3 linked regions of the Homo sapiens genome follow. The protein of the gene in region 1 interacts with the protein of each later gene in a pairwise test. Each region holds a gene or a part of one and is shown in the gene's direction. Other genes may lie near its edges.

Region 1 (7,025 bases):
CTTAGACTAAACTAAACTCACTATTTGGCACCAAGAAAAGTTCCAAGTTAGGGTAGAAAGAAAACATTTGATTTTCCTTTAGAGTCACCAAAAAAGTTCTCAAAAGTTGCTGCAGCATCTGGAGTCTCTGTTAGCACCTTTAGAGTCACCAAAAAAGTTCTCAAAAGTTGCTGCAGCATCTGGCGTCTCTGTTACCACCTAAGGTGCCTTGGTGTGTTTGATATAAATGCAGCCCTTTCTCTGGGCAGTGAATGGGGTGTGGCTGGGTTCTGGCCCCTCGCTGCCCTTCAGCTGGGCACCTCAGACAGTGCACACAGGCAGCCACACCCTTGGGGAGGAAACACAATGCTGAACGGTTAGGTTTAAGGCTTCTCAGAATCCATACTCCTCACACAGCCCGTTCTCTTTCTTTTTCAAATGATCTCAGGTGATACATGCCTGAGGAACCCACTCCACAAACAGCAATCACTCCCTCTCCGGCCCATCATCCCCCTCGTTGCCCGGATCTCGGATCAGAACGCTTCTGGGGCCCCCCCAATGACTGTCCGGGAGAAAACCCGCCTAGAAAAATTCCGTCAACTTCTCTCCAGCCAGAACACTGACTTAGGTGAGTCCCTGTGAGCCCAGGCAAGGTAGGAGCTTTGGGTGACTGGAATTCTCAGAGACCTGGAAGCTACTGCTCTTTATTCTTCCTTCTTTTACTTTTCTAGCTTCTCCTGACCTGGTGCCCATTGCAGTGACATGCAGGTATTAAGTCAGACATATGTTACTAGAGATTATGGACCAAATTAGGTGGGACTGGTTTCTGTGGCCTGTAGACCCTAGTGCAACTATTCTGACTTTGGTCTTCCTTATCTCAAGGTGACTCTTACTGAAATCTACACCCACTGGTCTTTCCCTTCCCCTCTAACTTTCATCTCTGAGCTGACAGGACTGCTACTGCAAGGCCGTGTCCTTGGCACTTAGCTGCTCGGGGCTGTTTTGGGCTTTTCACTGTGCTTATGGGTAGCAGGTGGTGGTGGTGGTCTTACATGGATGGAAGGAGACATCAGGCAGTGCTGGTTGCGGTTTGCTTTAGAGCATTTGTGGAGAGTTAACCTAACAAGGCTGTTTTCTATTTACAGATGAACTGAGGAAGTGTAGCTGGCCAGGGGTTCCCAGGGAGGTTCGACCTATAACCTGGAGACTCCTGTCGGTGAGTTCTACCCACTGTGTAGAGAAATGTGAGCCTCACACAGCCCTTCTTGCCTGATGAGGTTAGTCTGGACACATTGGTCTTAACTCCATAGACTTCTCTAGTCCTACTGGATATGACAGAACTATGGGACTATAGTCCTATTTCTGTGCATAAAGAAATACATTCTTGAGAGTTTATTCACACACATGTAGTGGTACACAGACTTGTACCAATAGTCATGGTGTCATGTTCTTAACAGCGAGGAAGAAGAATAGAGTGAGATAGGGTGATCCCAGCACTTGCTTTGAGTAAGCTCCAACGTTCCCTGTGCTTCACTCCTGTTTCAGCCGGAATAACCAAAAGTTGAAACCCACTTTGATCTGTGAAGAGTTGATAAATTGGCCTCCCTTGGAAGCTTTACTAGTCCTGCTTTCACCAAGTACAGAGCACTGTGCCAGCCGCTATGATAGAAACACTTGGGTTTCCTGAGCCTGTAAAATTCATTCATTCATCTAGTGAGGATTTATTGAGAGCCTGCTGTTTGCCAGGCATAGTGCCAGATGCTTTGAGCAGATGCAAAAATGAATAAACCACAGTCCCCACTCTCCAGGCACTCACTGCAGAATGCATTACATAAATGTTTTCAAGAAGAAGGGTCTGTCTCCTGACTGCTCGCCCCCACCTCTACTCTTGCAACCATGCAATCATTGCCTCTGCCACTTCTAATAAGTTTGAATACTATTCAGAGTAGATTTGGTGAGAACGGAAGGGGAACAGAAAATATAAGAATGAGAGTGGGATCTAGACCAGGGATAAGAATGAAAGTTGGCCTGGAGCTTTGGCTAGGCCGGGGGCTGCTGCCAGAAGTTCTGTCTGAGTGTTGTAGCTGTATGTCACAGATTCCATTCAGCTGCTTCCTAAGCTGGTAATTCTGAAAGTTACACTGGAAAAGAATGTAACTGGCACCAACTTACTTGGCACACTGCTGAGATGTGCTGTAGAGGTTGCTATATCCCTGCATTTCTCAGAAGTATGGCCCTGGACACACACAGCCCTCCGAGGCCATGACTTGGGTCCAGCTCCCTCCCACTGACCTACATTCACTGCTGTACTGTGCCAGCTCTGGGAGCTGAGGAGTGCTCACCAGTGGCACAAGCTCCAGCACAGTGCAGGGCCAAGGGAGTAAATAATCCTGGGAAAGCTGGCCTTGCTTCATCTGCTCACATGTGGATCTCATTGAATGAGGAGAGGGCAAAAAATGGGTGGCCAGAACCAAAAAGGGATTTACCCTTGGCAGTTTTCCTTCTTGGTAGTTTCCAAACCACTGCATAGATTAAAATAAAAATTAAGGATTTATCCAACCATTGTCTTTCCCCATCTGACCAGCAGTCTTGTCTATAGGGCTATCTCCCAGCAAACACTGAGAGGAGGAAGTTGACCCTGCAGCGGAAGCGGGAGGAATATTTTGGCTTCATTGAACAGTATTATGACTCTCGAAACGAGGAACATCACCAGGATACCTACAGACAGGTACAGTCACCACCTGCTGCCTCTTTGCTTACCAGTCATATACTTTAGGTATGTCTCATGGTAGTGCTCTCAGGGTACAGGCTTTCCAAGTCTTCAGGCTGTGGTATATTGGTTAGGAGTTAAATTTATCCTCAAAACTGTTTCCCCTCTTTTCATTCAGCAACTCTGATTTTAGCCATTTTAAATAGACAGACTTTTTTGGCACTAGTCAGTGCACTGCTTCTCAAACTTTAATGTACATACAAATCACCTAGGATCTTGATAAGATCTCACCTAGAGATTATGAGAAAATGCAGATTCTGATTTAGCAGGTCTCAGGTAAAGCCTGAAGTTCTGATGTGCTCCCTTGCAATGCTGCTGCTGCTGGTCCACCAACCACACTGTGAGTAGTAAGCGTTATCGAGCATGGAGAGGAAAGACAAGCTTACCTAGCCGTGGTCCAGTCCCTCTGGACTATGACATCAGTATGTCTTCCTGGCAGCTGCACTGCTGTTTTGGCATCTGTGACTGTAGGAGCTGTAGCTTTCAGTAGTCTTGTCAGGGAGTCTTCTGTCATTGCCCATAATGGTCCTCATGGTCTGCGGAAAGGTCTGCTCCCAACATCACATGTGGAGGGAGGAGAAGAGTAGGCCAGGGGTTGCAGAAAGTGGAAGGTGGGCAGCTATTTACAACAAGCCTCAAGAACTGAAGTAGCCTCTGCTGCTGCTGCTGCTGACACAGTCTTTTGCATAGTTAGACTGGGCACTGGGAAATCCCTGAGTTGAAATGGACTATAGTGATGTCTTAGGTAACAGAAGTAAGAACTTTCAGCTTCAGTTACTGAAGGCCAACTCCTTTTGGTCCTTCCCCACTTTTTTTTTTTTTTTTTTTTTTTTTTTGAGATGGAGTCTCACTCTGTCGTCCAGGCTGGAGTGCAGTGGCGTGATCTTGGCTCACTGCAGCCCCCACCTCCTGGATTCAGGTGATTCTCCTGCCTCGGCTTCCTGAGTAGCTGGGATTACAGGCATGTGCCACCAGGCCCGGCTAATTTTTTCTTTATCTTTTTTGAGACCGAGTCTTTTTCTGTCACTTAGGCTGGAGTGCAGTGGCGCAATCTCGGCTTGCTCCAGCCTTTGTCCGCTGGGTTCCAGCGATTCTCCTGCCTCACCCTCCTGGATAGCTGGGATTACAGGCGCACACCACCACACCCAGCTAATTTTTGTAATTTTAGTAGAGATGGGGTTTCGCCATGTTGGCCAGGCTGGTCTTGAACTCCTGGCCTCAGGTGATCCACCCACCTTGGCCTCCCAAAGTGCTGGGATTACAGGTATGAGCCACCATGTAATTTTTGTAATTTTAGTGGAGACGGGGTTTCACCATGTTGGCCAGGCTGGTCTCAAACTCCTGACCTCAAGTGATCCACCCGCCTCAGCCTCCCAAAGTGCTGGGATCACAGGCGTGAGCCATCGCCCTGGCCCTTCCCCGCTTCTTACACATCATGACTTCATAAGCAAGTTCATCTCTGGTTCCCTATTTTAGGACATTTTTGCAGCTTTCTGAGCTCTTCTAGTTCTTAGGAACTGTTGATGAGTAAGATTCTGAAAGATGGGTACCTACTTGGATCATACCTGCTACATACATGCCAGCCCAGAGTGAAACAGACTTCAGAGCAATAAGAAAAAACCCTTAATCTGTGAAGCCTATTGCCATTTGACTTTAGTGGTTTCTTTTGGGAGGTTTCCTCACTGTTTAATAAGCTATTGTTGTCATGGAAACATGTTCCACATGGGCAGGTAGGTATAACTAGATTTTTTTCCTGTGTCAGTCACTTCTTTCTGAAGATAAATTGTGTTTTCTTACTACTTTGATTTCCATTTCTTTTTTTTTTTTGAGACAGAGTCTTGCTCTGTCGCCCAGGCTGGAGTGCAGTGGCCCGATCTCGGCTCACTGCAAGCTCCACCTCCCGGGTTCACACCATTCTCCTGCCTCGGCCTCCCGAGTAGCTGGGACTACAGGCACCCGCCACCACGCCCGGCTAATTTTTTGTATTTTTAGTAGAGACAGGGTTTCACCGTGTTAGCCAGGATGGTCTCGATCTCCTGACCTCATGATCCGCCCGGCTTGGCCTCCCAAAGTGCTGGGATTACAGGCGTGAGCCACCGCACCCAGCCAGATGATTCCCATTTCTTTAAAAAAAAATTGTCAAAAGAACAAACTGGGCCAGGCACGGTGGCTCACACCTGCAATCCCAGCACTTTGGCAGGCCAAGGCGGGTGGGTCACCTGAGGTCAAGAGTTCGAGATCAGCCTGGTCAACATGGTGAAACCCCGTCTCTACTAAAAATGCAAAAATTAGCCAGGCCTGGTGGCAGGTGCCTGTAATCCCAGCTACTTGGGAGGCTGAGGCAGGAGAATCGCTTGAACCCTGGAGGCAGAGGTTGCAGTGAGCTGAGATAGTGCCATTGCACTCCAGCCTGGGGGACAAGAGCGAGACTTCATCTCAAAAAAACAAAAACAAAAAAAAACTGGCATTTGTGTTTTTGGACATGCCTTCTCTTTTTCAGATTCACATTGACATTCCAAGGACGAATCCTCTCATTCCGTTGTTCCAGCAACCACTTGTACAGGAGGTGAGGGAATTACTTAATGTTCTTTGGCGCTTCTCCCCGCATAGTTCTGTGGCACCTGTTTACAGGTTTGCGGCTAATCATAATAGTACCTTATGTTCATATATGCAGCTTTGGTTCCTTCAGAGCATGGTTTCATACATTTTCATTTGATCTTTGTTACAAATCTGTGAGCGGAATAACACTTTGAAAGGCTAAGGAACTTGCTCAGAATTTTGAGGCTACCTGGTGGCAGAATGAAGAACCCACATCTTAGAATTCCTATTCCTGTATTTGCTCTACTTTATCAAGCTGGAAGTAGTGATTTTTTAAATTGTGGTAAAATATACATAATATAAAATTTACTGTGTTAACCATTTTTTAGTGTACAGTTCAGTGGCATTAAGTACAGTCACGTTATTGTATGACCATCATCACCATCCACTTCCAGAACATTTTTCATCTTCCCAAACTGGAACTCTGTATCCATTAAATATTAACTCTCTTCTGCAGCCTCCATTCTATTTGTCTCTAAGAATTTGACTACTCCAGGCAGCTCAAATAAGTGGAATCATACAATATTTGTCCTTCTGTGACTGGCTTATTTCACTTAGCATAATATCTTTAAGGTTCATCCCTGTTGTTGCATGTGTGAATTTCCTTTTTTAAGGCTGAGTAATATTCCGTTGTACATATGTAACACATATTGTTGAGCTGTTCATCTATCAGTGGACACATGGGTTGCTTTCACCTTTTGGCTATTGTGAGTAATGCTGCTGCTAGTATGGGTATGTGAATATCTGTTTGAGTCTCTGTTTTAAATTCTTTTGGGTATATATTTAGAAGTGGGAGTAGTAGTTATATTTTGAGACCTAACAAGTTAATGAAGTACATGGAAGGTGTCAGTGGGGCTATTATGTTTTGACTCAAGCAGTAACTGTAAACTTCTTAAGATTAGGGATTTCCTTTGCAACTTTACAGTAGCCAGGACACTAAGTACTAGTGCTCTTTTAACGGAACTTTCAGTTCTCATAGTAGAGAGGGATGGTGGTTAAAATGCTGAAAATAATTTCTATTTGACTTTGGGTTATATTTATAATTTTGTTTAAATATAGATGTCTCCACTGGTGGGGTCCCTCATGTCTTACCCATAGCATAAAGAAGATTTTGAAGGTAACATCATTATTTTAACTATAAGATTCAGCTCACAGGAAGCTAAAAACCCATTCATGATCCCTTTATCCTCCCATACAGTTTTCCATGGCTCAGCACTGCTTATTCCTCATTTTAACTTGGAGATGTTCAGAGACTTTTCTTTTACCTGTGCATGCTTACTCTGAATTTGGAGATGAGGAAAGTAGTCAGTTTAAAAGGCTTCTCAGCCAGGCGTGATGACTCACTCCTATAATCCCAGCACTTTGGGAGGCCAAGGCCAGAGGGATTGCTTGAGCCCACGAGTTTGAGACCAGCCTGAGCCTAGGAGTTTGAGACCAGTCTGGGTAACATAGCAAGACCCTGTCTCAAAAAAATTACAGAATTAGCCAGGCATGGTGGTGTGTGCCTGTGCTACTGTGCCTGTGCTACTTGGGAGGCTGAGGAGGGAGGATCTCTTGAGCCCAGGTGGTCAAAGCTGCAATGAGCCATGATCGTGCTACTGCACTCCAGCCTGGGTGACAGAGCAAGATCCTGTCTCAAAAAAAAAAAAAAAAAGAGGTTGGGGGGTGGTGGCTTCTT
Region 2 (6,999 bases), on another chromosome or scaffold:
GAACCAGATCAGGCAGGGCCTTGAAGGGCATGCTGAATCATCTGGTCTTTATGTCAAGAGCAATAGGGAGCTGTGGCAGGTATTTGAGCAAGGGAGTGATGTGATCCTGTTAGTATTATTAACAGATCATAGGCTCTGGCTCCTGTAGGTATGAGGGACAAATCTGAGGGTTAAGCGTGAGAGTGGGAGAACCAGTATTAGGAGTTGATTGCATTTGAGCTGGGCATGGTGGCTCACGCCTGTAATCCCAGCACTTTGGGAGGCCGAGGTGGGCAGGTTGCCTGAGGTCAGGAGTTCGAAACCAGTCTGGCCAACATGGAGAAACCCCGTTGCTACTAAAAATACAAAAATTAGCCAGGCGTGGTGGTAGGCGCCCGTAATCCCAGCTACTCGGGAGGCTGAGGCAGAAGAATTGCTTGAACCTGGGAGGTGGAGGTTGCAGTGAGCCGAGATCGTGCCACTGCACTCAAGCCTGGGTGACAGAGCAATACTCTGTCTCTGAAACAAACAAACAAAAAAAGGAGTTGATTGCATTTGTCCAAGGGAGAAGTGGGGGCCTTCAAGGCCTCGTGATCTGGCCCCTGTTCTTCTCTGACCTCACCTCCGGCCACACTGGCCTCATTGCTCCCAAACACAACAGGCCTGCTCCTGTCTCAGAACCTTGGCACTTAAGAACTGGGGTCTCAGTATGTTGCCCAGGCTGGCCTTGAACTTCTGGACTGAAGCGATCCTCCCACCTCAGTCTCCCAAAGCACTGACATTACAGGTACCTGCCACTGCACCTGGCCCCCAGCGGGTCCTTGATATAGAGCAGGTGCTTAGCAACCTTGAGGGGTGTGGGGAGAAGGACACTCAGGGAGTGTGGGACAAATATTTACTGAGCTCCAGCTGTGTGCCTCGTGCTGGGGTGAGGGTGGCAAGATCCGTGTCTCAGCCCTGGTGAGACTCATGTTTGCAGGGTCAGGTGGGGGAGGAGATTAAACAGCAGGGCAGGTGCACAGACTGAGAGAGAAATGGAGCAAGGCAGGTGGGGTGGGCACTGGGAGGGAGGGAGGGTGTCACGGCTGGTGGGAGTGAGAGGAGGCGAGGATGAGAGGTTCCCTGAGGAGGAGGGCAGAGGCTGGTCAATGCCCACATCATTCACGTTCATATTAGAGCATGGTTTCTCTTTTTCTTTTTTCTTTTTTCTTTTTTTTTGAGACAGTCTTTATCTGCTGCCCAGGCTGGAGTGCAGTGGTGCGATTGTGGCTTACTGCAACCTCTGCCTCCCGGGATCAAGAGATTCTCCTGCCTCAGCCTCCCGAGTAGCTGGGATTACAGGCACGCACCACCACACCCGGCTAATTTTTGTATTTTTAGTAGAGATGGGGTTTTGCCATGTTGACCAGTCTGGTCTTGAACTCCTGACCTCAGGTGACTGCCCGCCTCAGCCTCCCAAAGTTCTAGGATTACAGGTGTGAGCCACTGTGCCTGGCCTAAAGTTCTTAATACTTAGAATTGTGAGAAATTGTTGTTTGTTTATGGGTTTGGGTCTCAGCCTGTCCAGCAGCAAATGCTGGTGCTGTCAGGTGTCACGTGATGCCCTGCGGGCGTCAATCATCCCTCCATTCCTTAGTCTCCTCGCTTGTGAAATGGGACTCTCAGCTGTACCTCCTTCTTGTAGGTACAGGAGAATGTTAGAGGGATGAAATGAGCTAATCCATGTAAATTGCTGAGGACAGGGCTGGACACATACCAGGTCCTCCATTCATTCATTAATTCACCCATTCATTCATTCAAAGGATATTTATGAAGCATGTGCTATGTGCCAGGCACCTTTAGTGCTGGGGAAGAAACAAAATAAGAAATCTTGACCATCCCTCATAGGTTTCTGCATGCTGGTGGGAGAGACAGAACATGAACAAACAAGTAAAATATATATGGCCTGTCAGAAGGGAGTGTGTGACACAGAGAAAAGACATCTGAAAGAGGGAAGGGGACCCAGGGGTGTGGGAACTGCAGTTTTATTTTATTATTTTATTTTTTGGGGCCAGGCGTGGTGGCTGACGCCTGTAATCCCAGCACTTTGGGAGGCCGAAGCAGGCAGATTACTTGACCTCAGGAGTTCAAGACCAGCCTGGCTAACATGGTGAAACCCCATCTCTACTAAAAAATACAAAAATTAGCCAGGCATGGTGACACATGCCTGTAGTCCCAGCTACTCAGGAGACTGAGGCAGGAGAAGGGCTTGAACCTGGGGGGAGGAGGTTGCAGTGAGCCAAGATGACATCACTGCACTCCAGCCTGGGCAACAGAGTGAGACTCTGTCTCAAAAAATAAAACAAAAAATATTTTTTTGTTGTTAAAAAAAATAAAGACAGGCCAGGCACAGTGGCTCAAGCCTGGAATCCCAGCACTTTGGGAGGCCGAGCCAGGCAGATCATGTGAGATCAGGAGTTCGAGACCAGCCTGGCTAATATAGTGAAACCCTGTCTCCACTAAAAAAAAAAAAAAAAAAAAAAAATTATCCTGGTGTGGGGGCACATGCCTGTAGTCCCAGCTACTCGGGAAGCCGAGGCAGGAGAATTGCTTGAACCTGGGAAGTGGAGGTTGCAATGAGCTGAGATTGCACCACTGCATTCCAGCCTAGACAACAGAGTGATACCCTATCTGAAAGAAAGAGAGAGAGAGAGAGAAAGAAAAGAAAGAAAGAAAGAAAGAAAGAAAGAAAGAAAGAAAGAAAGAAAAAGGGTCTTGCTAAGCTGCCCATGCTGGCCTCAAACACCTGGGTTCAAGCAATCCTCCCTCCTCGGCTTCCCAAAGTGCAAGGATTACAGGTGTGAGCTAGTGATCCTGGCTTGCAGCTTTAAACAGTATAGCCAGGGAAGACCTCACTGAGGAGGTGACCTCGGATCAGGGTTTGAGGGAGCTGAGGGAGTGTTTACCCAGGAAAGTCCCCGTTTAGCATTGACACTGTGGACTGAAAATACCATGTCCCCAAAAACCCTTCAGTCCTGGGCAAACTGGGATGGCTGGCCACCCTAAGAGTGGGTCATGTGGCTCTCTTAGGAAAAGGCACTCCAGGCAGAGGGAACAGCAAGTTCAAAGGCCCTGAGGTTTGAACACGCAGGGTGTGTCGAAGATACAGCACGGAAAAGGGTGGAGGTCGTTTGGGAGGGGAGCAGAAATGGCTTGAAAGAGTTGGTGGGGGGAACCGGGCAGGGAGCTCATTTAGATTCCCACTCGGAGAGCCTGCTAGGGGTGCTGCCTTGTACCAATTAGTCTTAAGTGGCAGGGACAGGCCTTGCCTGGCCAGCTCAGCTTTCTAAGGCAAGCGAGATCAAAGATAGAATTTGAGTTTATCCAAGGTCATGTGTAGTCAACGAACACACACGCACACACACAGAGAGAGTATTTAGGGACTTCCCAGGTGGCCAGGGAGTTGAATTGCAGGAGAAACGGTGGCAGGAAACAGTGCATTTCTTTTTTTTTTTTTTTTTTTTTCTGAAACGGAGTCTTGCTCTGTTGCCCAGGCTCGAGTGCAGTAGCGCAATCTTGGCTCACTGCAACCTCCACCTCCCGGGTTCAAGTAGTTCTCCTGCCTCAGCCTCCCAAGTAGCTGAGATTACAGGAATGCACCACCATGCCTGGCTAATTTTGTATTTTTAGTAGAGATGGGGTTTCATCATGTTGGCCAGGCTGGTCTCAAAATTCTGACCTCAGATGATCCACCCACCTCAGCCTCCCAAAGTGCTGGGATTACAGGTGTGAGACACTGTGCCTGGTCTAGAGTGCCTTTCATGAAGGCCTCATAGAAACCATCTCCCCCTCCATGGATAAAAGAACTTCCTGGCTGGGTGTGATGCCTCGTGCCTGTAATCCCAACACTTTGGGAGGCCGAGCGGGGAGGATTGCTTGAGCCCAGGAGTTCGAGGCTGCAGTGAGCTATGATCGTGCCACTGCAGTCCAGCCTGGGCCACAGAGACTTCACCGGAAAATAACTTCATCCCATTTTTGAAAAATATGCAGCCTTCTGGATCTCTCATCCATTTTCCTGTCTTGATATGGACAGGAATTTGAGTAACATACAAAGACCAAGGGAGAAGGGACAGAGGTAGAGACAAAGACAGAGTCAGAGACCGAGGAGAAGAGAGAGAAATCCCTTCCCACCAAGGAGAGACTCCTTGAGTGCTGAGACCCAGCGACCCCAGGGCAAACCAGAGAGGGTGTTATGTTAGATGCCGTCTCTAGCAGTCACTGAGATCAACTAGAAACATGCCAGGGAGGTGGCCGTCATCCCAGACATCAGGATGGCTGTGGCTGTGTTTCAGTGGTCTGCGAAGATGCAGGGCTTGTGTAGCTTACTTGGCCTCTTGTCTCCCTAGCTCGCCCTCCCCTACCTGCGGAAGAGTCAAGGGAATGTCATCAACATCTCCAGCCTGGTGGGGGCAATCGGCCAGGCCCAGGCAGTTCCCTATGTGGCCACCAAGGTATGGCAGCCCCTACCCCTTCCTTCCCTCCCTACTCCTTCCCATGGGCCTTGGCTTTGAGTCCAGACAACTTAGGAGCCAGACCTAGCAAGATCTTGGCCCTAGAAAGTCTCACACCTAACTCCCAGATGCAGCACCCAGGCATAACTGCCTGTGACAGATTTCTGTTTTTTCTTTTCTTTTCTTTTTTTTTTTTTAAAGATGGAGTCTCGCTCTGTCACCAGGCTGGAGTTCAGTGGTGCAATCTCAGCTGCAACCTCTGCCTCCTGGGTTCAAGGGATTCTCCTGACTCAGCCTCCCGAGTAGCTGGGACTACAGGCGCATGCCACCGCACCCAGCTAATTTTTTTTGTATTTTTTAGTAGAGACGGGGTTTCACCATGTTAGCCAGGATGGTCTCGATCTTCTGACTTCATGATCTGCCTGCCTTGGCCTCCCAAAGTGCTGGGATTACAGGCATGAGCCACCGCACCCAGCAGATTTCTGTTTTTTCTTTTCTTTCTTTCTTTTTTTTTGAGATGGAGTTTCGCTCTTATTGCCCAGGTTGGAGTGCAATGGTGTGATCTTGGCTCACTGCAACCTCCGCCTCCCGGGTTCAAGTGATTCTCCTGCCTCAGCCTCCCAAGTAGCTGAGATTACAGGTGGCTGTCACCACGCCCAGCTAGATTTTTGTATTTTTTAGTAGAGACGAGATTTCACCATGTTGGTCAGGCTGGTCTCGAACTCCCGACCTCAGGTGATCCACCCACCTCGGCCTCCCAAAGTGCTGGGATTACAGGCATGAGCCACTGTGCCCGGCTAACTTTCTTTTTTTCTTTTCTTTTCTTTTCTTCTTTTTTTTTTTAGATAGGGTCTCACTCTGTCACCCAGGTTGCAGTGTGGTGGCATGATCTCAGCTCACTGCAACCCCTGCCTCATGGGTTCAAGCGATTCTCACGCCTCAGCCTCCCCAGTAGCTGGGATTACAGGCGTGCACCACCATGTCCGGTTAATTTTTGTATTTTTAGCAGAGATGGGGTTTTGCCATGTTGGCCAGGCTGGTCTCGAACTCCTGGCCCAAGTGATCCACCCATCCCGGCCTCCCAAAGTGCTGGGATTACAGGTGTGAGCCACTGCACCTGGCCTTCCTGTGACAGATTTCTATGCCAAGTTTCTCCCAAGAAACCAAGCCTGGTGCCTCTGAAGGCAGCCTTCAAGGAGGGCATGACTTCCCCATTCTGATGCCCCCCTGGCTGGCAGGAGACAATGGATGGCAGGGACCCCATGTCCCGGGGACTGAACTTTCTTCCCCGCTCCATTTCCTGCAGGGGGCAGTAACAGCCATGACCAAAGCTTTGGCCCTGGATGAAAGTCCATATGGTGTCCGAGTCAACTGGTGAGCTGCTCTGAGCAGGCGGAGAGCCTCCTGGGGGGACTGGGGTGACTGGGAGTGATCCCAAGTGGTTCGAGACAGATTGCTTTGATCCCCCCTCTCCCTTCCTCTAGTATCTCCCCAGGAAACATCTGGACCCCGCTGTGGGAGGAGCTGGCAGCCTTAATGCCAGACCCTAGGGCCACAATCCGAGAGGGCATGCTGGCCCAGGTAGAAGTGGGGTTCAGATCCAGGTGGTAGAAGGTGGCATGGGGGTGGGGGGCATGGCGATCAAGTGGGGCTCCTCTTGACCTCCTTCCCCCCTCTTTTCTCCCCAGCCACTGGGCCGCATGGGCCAGCCCGCTGAGGTCGGGGCTGCGGCAGTGTTCCTGGCCTCCGAAGCCAACTTCTGCACGGGCATTGAACTGCTCGTGACGGGGGGTGCAGAGCTGGGGTACGGGTGCAAGGCCAGTCGGAGCACCCCCGTGGACGCCCCCGATATCCCTTCCTGATTTCTCTCATTTCTACTTGGGGCCCCCTTCCTAGGACTCTCCCACCCCAAACTCCAACCTGTATCAGATGCAGCCCCCAAGCCCTTAGACTCTAAGCCCAGTTAGCAAGGTGCCGGGTCACCCTGCAGGTTCCCATAAAAACGATTTGCAGCCAGAAGGAGGAGGATATCGTTATATTTATTTCCCATCCTTTAGACGAGTCCTTCTGCCCCACTTAGCCCTTGCACCCCAGACCCACAAGTTGCCTCGACCCTGAAGGACTGCAGCTCCCCCCGCCCCCCAACCCCAGGCCTTGCAGCAAGCAGGTGCCTGATGTTGCTAGCCCTGTCGCTGTCGCCAGGGGCTCCTGGGAAGGGTAGAGCGGTTTGGCTTCACCAGCGCGCTAACTAAAGGCCCGCAGGGGAGAGTAAATTAAGCGCTAATTAGGAGGTAATGGAGGGGGAGACGCAGAAGGCCCTCTTACTCTTGGCCCTCAGGGAAAAGGAGTTTTCCTCTCACTGCCTGTAGAATAGGAAGGTGGCTGGCAAGAAAAGTCCAAAGGGAAGAGAAAGTAGGGGGTTGAGACATCTGGATCAGAGGGAGGAGGGGCTGAAACTCCTGGGTTTTGGTCCGCAGGGCACTGGGGGACGCAGACTCCCCAGCTGGACCCAGGGGGGGGGCAGGGCCCG
Region 3 (7,025 bases), on another chromosome or scaffold:
TAGAGCAACATATTAGATCCAGGAAATATTCTGGTGTGTAGACCAGACTTGACAATGAATTGTTTATGGGAAGTGGGAGAAAAGAGTGATTAAAGATGACTCCTAGGATTTCAACCTGAGCATTGAGTAGATGCTAATACCACTTTCCGACATGGGAAGACTAGGGAAGAAATAGGGTTAGAGGAGTAATCATGATTTCTAGGTTGGGCATATAAGTTTAAAATGTTTACTAGACACCCAAACGTAGACATTAAATAGTCAATAGGATATGTGAATCTGATATTCGAGGGAGAGATCAAAGCTGGAAATACAAATGTGGGAATAATCGGCATATGGTTGGTATTTAAGTCTATAGAACTGGATGAAAATACTGAAGTATAAAAAAGAAATCATCCCAATACAAAGCCTTGGGTCATAATATTGAGTGACCTAATGGGAATCCTGAAGGACAGGAGGAAAGTTTGATAATGAAGAGGATGGGGCTCAAGGAGGGTCCTCTTTCATTTGCAGAAACAAAGTCACTGAGAGGTAAGAAGAAATAGGATCTGCAGTATAGGAGGAAGGATGAGTTTCTGAAACAGGAGGATGGCCTAAAATTCAGCTACAGATACAAATGGATGTGGAATAATGAGGGAGCTCCCCTCTGACTCCTAGGAGGAAGCCAGGCCACAACGTAATGAGTAAGAAAGTGAACATACTAGGGAAGTGCAATAGAATCGCCTTGCAGTGTTCACTGACCACATGATATTTATGGTCATGAATTTAAAGTGAAACTAGTCCATGCAGTAATTTACCCCCAACCTGTTGGCTCCAGCATTCAGCTGCTCAGGTGTAGGCAAGACCCGGGCAGATGGGCCAGCTTAATTAGGGGTGGGTTTTACCAGGTTATTAGGATAGAGACAAGATACAGGGGTTTACCAGGTAATGAGGATAGAGACAAGATACAGGGAGGGACAAGTTGCTGAATGGTTATGAGATGGACGGGAATAAGCAGAGTTAGGAAGAGAGAGTATGAGGAAGATGATGGATAGTGAAAAGTAAAGAGTCTAAATGAGGTCAGAGAAATGCTGGCGTGGGAGTACTAGATTAAGCATGCTGGAAGGATGATGGATAGGTTGCTTTAAATCTCAATTAGTAAATAATGCAGTTCTCATTGATGATAGTGTCAAGGACATGCTATGTGGGTGGATGCCTGACATGAAGGATTCTTCAGGGCTCCATCTTTTAACTTCTTTTTTTCCTTTTACTTGCCTATCTTGGATAATTTCAGTCAATCTCATGGCCTTGTCATCTATAACTTCCAAGTCTGTCTCTCTGATTCAGACCTATATTCTGAGTCCTAGATTGACATATCTCACTGTTTACTTGAGTCTGTTTAAGTCTCAAGTCACCTCAAACTCATTATTATTCAAAATTGAATCCATTTTCTTCATTCATAAACTAACTAAAAAATTTTATTGAAAACACACTGGCCTAGAATCTGTGCTAGAACCTGATGAATCAGAAATAAGTAAGAGGCCAGGAGCTGTGGCTCACACCTACAATCTCAGGCCAAGGCAAGAGGGATTGCTTGAGCCCAAGAGTTCAAGACCAGTCTGGGCAACATAATGAGGCTCCGTTTCTATAAAAACTTTTTTAAAAAAGAGCTGGGTGTGGTGGTGTGTGCCTATAGTCCCACCTACTCAGGAGGCTGAAGTGGGAGGATCACTTGAGCCCAGGAGCTGGAAGTTAAGAGTTAGCTGTGGTTGCACCACTGTGCTCCAGCCTGGGCAATAGAGCAAGACACTGTCTCTAAATCAATCAATCAATCAATCAATCCATAAAAAGAAAGAAAGAATATCTTACTCTTAATGGCTTCCTTTACCTTTTTCTCTTTCTCAGTAAATGGCATGAGTGTCACTAATCACTCAGGCCAGAATCTAGGAAGTCATCTCTCTGAGATCAGGTTTCCTAGAATCTGAGATGAGATTCTTGTGAAAGCGATTTACCGAGGGAGTATTTTAGTATTTTCAGGAGGAGAGTGAAGGAGACAGGCTAGGGAAGGGGAGGAAAATTAAGCAAAGATGTGGTCTGAGCTACAAACTAGTATAGCCTGGTGTCCCAGGAAGCTTGGCACATGAATTGCACCACAGCATTTGTTCTCACCAAACAAAAAGTTTGGTATTTTACGCCCCTGTGTCCATCAATCAGTCATTGCCTCAGAGAGGATAGCAAATGGGCAGAGGAGGGACTGCAGCCTCCCAGGTGAGGCAGGAGCCTCCAGTTCGGTGGAGGGCAGTTCCCCAAAGGAGCCAGCTGTGAGCTGTTAGTAGCCAACACCCACCCAGCTAGAGGAGAGATGCATCAGCCTGGGGAAGGGGATCCGGGTAGGGGACCAACCACCATGGTCAACCTGTTGCACCACTCAGAACCACCTTCTTCCATAGCTTCCATTCAGGCATAGCTTCTTCACGATTCTTGCTGGTCATAATTTCTGGAAAAACTGTTGAGAGGAAAGTTAGTGAGATAAGCCACAGCCCCTCATGCTGCAATTGGTCGCTGACACCTATCACTGCCTCACCCATTCTAGATTCCTCTCCCCGTCAGCCAACTCTTCTGTTGATCCAGGTGGCTTTTCTTTTGGGGTGAGCCCCTAATGTCCATGCCCTTATTAGGATATGGTTTCTGTATTTGCCAATTAAAATTAAAATTGGGCATGAGAGTACCAAAAGATGCCTCAGAGGATCATCAGAGTACCAAACACATTCCTCACTGCCTCTGTTATGCAGTAGCAATCTTAACTCTTCAGGATGACTTAGGGTCAGCTACCTCTGCCAATATAGGAACTCCACTCTGTGTGTCTGATCTGTTGGCATGAGGAGCCCAAAGTGACCACATGGGAGCCAAAGCTCTAAGTTTGGTGGGACTCTTACAGGTCTCTTGGTAGAAGCATTCCGCCTCTAAGAGCCAGGACCTGTAGAACAACAGAGCCTAAAGATACATAGACAGAAAGCACAGATTCTCCAAGTGGGTTAACAGAAGTGATAGAGAGTGAAGCCATTCCTACTTCCTCCCTTTTGTTCCCAGATCCATGTATTCTACCCATTGGAAACACAGAACCATAAAACAGCCATCGGTTTAAAGTCTATACCACATCCTGAAGAATGGCACCCCAACCTCACAGGATATAATCTCCAAGCTGGTGCCTCAGCTTTGCCCTCAAGAGGCCGTCCCAAAGCTCTATCATGTTAGCATCCTCTGGATAGTGCTGTGTGTGGTTAGGACCAGTGGATACCATGGTCGTGCCCCCACTGCCATACTCTTTTGCTATAAAGTAGGTACCTTTACTATTAAGCAGGGTCTCTCTCATGTCTGCAGATAAGTGATTCTGTGAGCCCTAAGATAGTGGTGCAGCCAGGAAAGGCAAACACGCAGAATTCATATCCATTCTGATAAGCATACAGCATTGCCCTTTCCAAGGTGCTAGGGACCTATTGCAGTCAAGTTGCCACCAAGAGGCTGGCTGGTCTCCTTGAGGGATGATGCCATATCAAGAGCTCAGCTTTGGTTTCTGTTGCAAGCAGGTCAGACATTCAACAGCAATAGCAGCTGGATTACCCTTGGTGAAAGGGGAAATCATGGTATTGGGATGATGCATAATTCCCACTGAGGTAGCCAAAGACAAAGGCTGGATCAAATCATCCTGTCCACTTGCTGGAGTCTCAACCAGGACTCAACAGCATGACAAGAATTGTCTTGCAAATAGTATATAGGTTTCTGCTACAGATAGCATAGCCTTGTTCCAGAATCTTAAGGGTCTGCAACACAGCTTTCCCGATGAAACTTGCCAGAGGCTCCACAAGGCATTTTTCTTTACCAGAGATTCTTCTAGTATGGGATCTACCAAGTTATTTGACCAAAGTAGCAGGACTACTTGTACCCTATCCTGAACCTCCTACACAGCTCTTTCTTTCCAGAGTTCTGGGCTTTCTCACAAAATAATTTTTTCACCAGGCATGGTGGCTCACGCCTGTAATCCCAGCACTTTGGGAGGCCGAGGAGGGCAGATCACGAGGTCAGGAGATCGAGACCATCCTGGCTAACATGGTGAAACCCCGTCTCTACTAAAAATACAAAAAATTAGCCGGGAGTGGTGGCGGGCGCCTGTAGTCCCAGCTACTCGGGAGGCTGAGGCAGGAGAATGGCGTGAACCCGGGAGGTGGAGCTTGCAGTGAGCCGAGATCACGCCACTGCACTCCAGTGTGGGCGACAGAGTGAGACTCCGTCTCAAAAAAAAAAAAAAAAAATTTTTTCTGTGTCACCCAATAAATGAATCAGATTATTCAATTATTTGATCCAAGGGTGGAACATTTTCAAGGTGCATTAATTTTTGCTTTACCTAGGATGTTCTGACATGCCACATAGCAGTAGACACCTAAAAACAATGTGTCAAGCCCCAATCTTTTATGGGGTTTATCTTTCACCTTCTGGAGTACATACATCTTTCCATCCCTTTAACATACTTGCCACTTCTTGCTCATCAAGTCTCATTAACATGATGTTAGTGTTAATATATGATGTTCCATGTGATAGTCTTTGGAATGTCCAGATGGGCTAGGCCCCTTCAGAATTTATTGTGACAGCTTCATTAACATAACTTTGGGGCAAAACCATGGATATATATTGTTGGCCACCACATGTGAATGCTAACTGCTTCCTATCCTCCTTTTTATTAGATATTAAAAAGAATGCATTTGCCAATATTAAAAATAATGCATTTGCCAGATCAATAGTAGCATACCATCTACCCCAGGCTGTGATAGTCTTCTCTAGTAGAGATACTATCCCTGACACAGCAGCTACAGTTGGGCCTACTGGTTGGAAAAGTGTGCAGTACTCCATCATTTGCATGATCCCTAGTTTTGGCAGGGGCCAGATTGGTGAACAAAATCCACCTAACAAGGTTCACATGTATACAGATTGTCGACTCCCCAAACACTACATAAAGTCCCATTCTTCCTACCAAAATGAAAATCAAAGAAGAATATAGCAACCACAGAACTGGAAAATTAAAGTACAGATTTCCCCAACAAAAAAAAATTACTTAATTTTTGTATGTGGCTTTTCAAAACGAAGAATTGTAAAATTATCTGATGTTGTCCTTTATTCTTTAGCCACAGATTTTTATTTTTTTTTAAATAAGCACTAAACAGGTCACAAACAATTAAATAGCATTTTCATGTCACCATGAAGGGTGGAATTGGGGCACTTGTCCCTGATACTTTCTTCTCTGTGATAAGACAAACAAGATACATGCCAGCATCAAGCCTTCCCTACTAGGGAGCCACCTCCACCCCAAGACACATCATGCAGCCAGCCCTCTCACCTGGCTAACTCCAAGCATTGATTCTCCCTGTCAAAGCCAATCCTTATTTTCTTCTCTATAAACTGTCTAGTGCAATTCCACTATAATCTTTACTTTAGCTTTTTGGAGTTGCCTATTTTCAAATGAAAATCATTGGCTTTGCAAATGATTGCAGCATGTTTTAGGCAGGTTCCATGGTGAGTGCATTGTCCCTGCATTTGCAGTTGGACAATATAACACTCATTTGTAGAGCTTTTTAATGTAATGGTGCTGTGATGTCTTACTTAGTTCCTTGAGGATTTCATTAGTGGTAACTGAATTACACTAGTAGTGGGAATTCAGCCCAGGATGTATTCTTTCATTAAGAGCTGCGGTGTTTGACAGTATGTCAGGGATGAAGCATGCCTGGAAATGGGAAGATTTTTTAAAGCTCTGTATTCCTCACTCACTTTTCTTTCTTTCTCTCTTTAGTCTCCCCCAGATATGTCCTTCCCAGCATCTTTGGCTGCACAGCATTTCCTTCTGGAAGAAGAGAAACGAGCAAAAGAACTTGAAAAACTTCTAAATACACATATTGATGAACTGCAAAGACACACAGAATTTACTCTTAATAAATACTCCAAGCTAAAACAAAATAGACACATATGAGCTTTTAAACTTTTTTATTTGCTTCCCCCCCCCACCCCCGCCAAGAAAAAAAGCTCTGGCAAAATATTTACAAAGCTGATTAATGAAACCAAGAAATTCTGTTCTGTTTCCTTGAGTAAATAATTTCCGTAAGGCAGCTAGAAAATAGTAAGTATTTTGTTCTATAAAGCTGTTCACATTTCTGCATTAACATGCTAAATTGTCCTGCTGTAGAGTTACTATAAAATAAACATGACTATTCCAAAAGAGATTTTTTTCCAGTCTAAGGAATATTTTGGAATCAAATATGCAGTTTTTTTTCCCCACTTGAATCATGTATACTGAAAACCCATTTCCTCAGCAACTACACAAAATAAGAGAAAGGGAAGTGCTATATTCCAGATACAAATGACTCAAAGGCAGCTCAGTTGTACTGGTTTTGAAAACTCAAGGATTTTATAAATAAAAATATTTAAGTATTTCCAGTTATGTAAACACTCTAAAATTCTATAATTTTTTGGAAAAAAAAAGCTATAGCTTTATTGTTTTTACATTCACCTTTATAATGTCTGTCTGTTTCAACACAATGAAGGTATATGGAATGTGCAATTTACAAACCTAAAATATATGTGCCAAAAATTAACGCTTTTTTGTTAGTACTAATTACTTCATGGACACAAACAAGATAAAGGAAATATAAAGCATTACTGTTGCTACATTTTCCTTTGTAATCACTTCTGTTTTTAATACAATAAAGGAATGTAAAATTCAATGGACTTGAAGCATAAATGCTAAATCTGTATAGAACAGTAATAGCATGGCTGTGAACAATAAAACAGAGTTACAAATACACAGCAATAATACAATATACTTTAAGAGTTTCACATATGTGTGTGTGTGTATATATATGTCTCTCTCTCTCTCTATATATATATATATATGTATATATGAAGAGAGATTATGAAAGAAGGTAAGTCCTACTACAGCTTTTACAGTTCTCTATTTCCCTTTAAAGAAACAATCTCATCATACTGAAAGATAAACCAAAATGCCA

What was found. The genes of interacting proteins can lie anywhere in the genome.
Region 2: the proteins of TBC1D22B (region 1) and HSD17B14 interact in binary tests that used the Homo sapiens proteins (3 or more experiments, as listed by UniProt).
Region 3: the proteins of TBC1D22B (region 1) and DEUP1 interact in binary tests that used the Homo sapiens proteins (3 or more experiments, as listed by UniProt).

The regions. Positions count from the first base shown.
Region 1 is NC_000006.12:37,281,758-37,288,782, forward strand, and holds part of TBC1D22B (TBC1 domain family member 22B), read left to right. Parts: intron 1-427; coding exon 428-607; intron 608-1,124; coding exon 1,125-1,195; exon of another isoform or gene 1,196-1,256; intron 1,257-2,578; coding exon 2,579-2,707; intron 2,708-5,249; coding exon 5,250-5,315; intron 5,316-7,025. UniProt on the Homo sapiens protein: May act as a GTPase-activating protein for Rab family protein(s).
Region 2 is NC_000019.10:48,812,507-48,819,505, reverse strand, and holds the end of HSD17B14 (L-fucose dehydrogenase), read left to right. Parts: intron 1-4,364; coding exon 4,365-4,469; intron 4,470-5,775; coding exon 5,776-5,843; intron 5,844-5,953; coding exon 5,954-6,050; intron 6,051-6,157; coding exon 6,158-6,331; 3' UTR 6,332-6,488; downstream 6,489-6,999. UniProt on the Homo sapiens protein: Catalyzes the NAD(+)-dependent oxidation of L-fucose, yielding L-fucono-1,5-lactone, which rapidly converts spontaneously to L-fucone-1,4-lactone. Can also act on D-arabinose and L-galactose, with lower catalytic efficiency. Does not use NADPH.
Region 3 is NC_000011.10:93,431,728-93,438,752, forward strand, and holds the end of DEUP1 (deuterosome assembly protein 1), read left to right. Parts: intron 1-510; coding exon of another isoform or gene 511-525; exon of another isoform or gene 526-778; intron 779-3,066; exon of another isoform or gene 3,067-3,313; intron 3,314-5,815; coding exon 5,816-5,992; 3' UTR 5,993-6,743; downstream 6,744-7,025. UniProt on the Homo sapiens protein: Key structural component of the deuterosome, a structure that promotes de novo centriole amplification in multiciliated cells.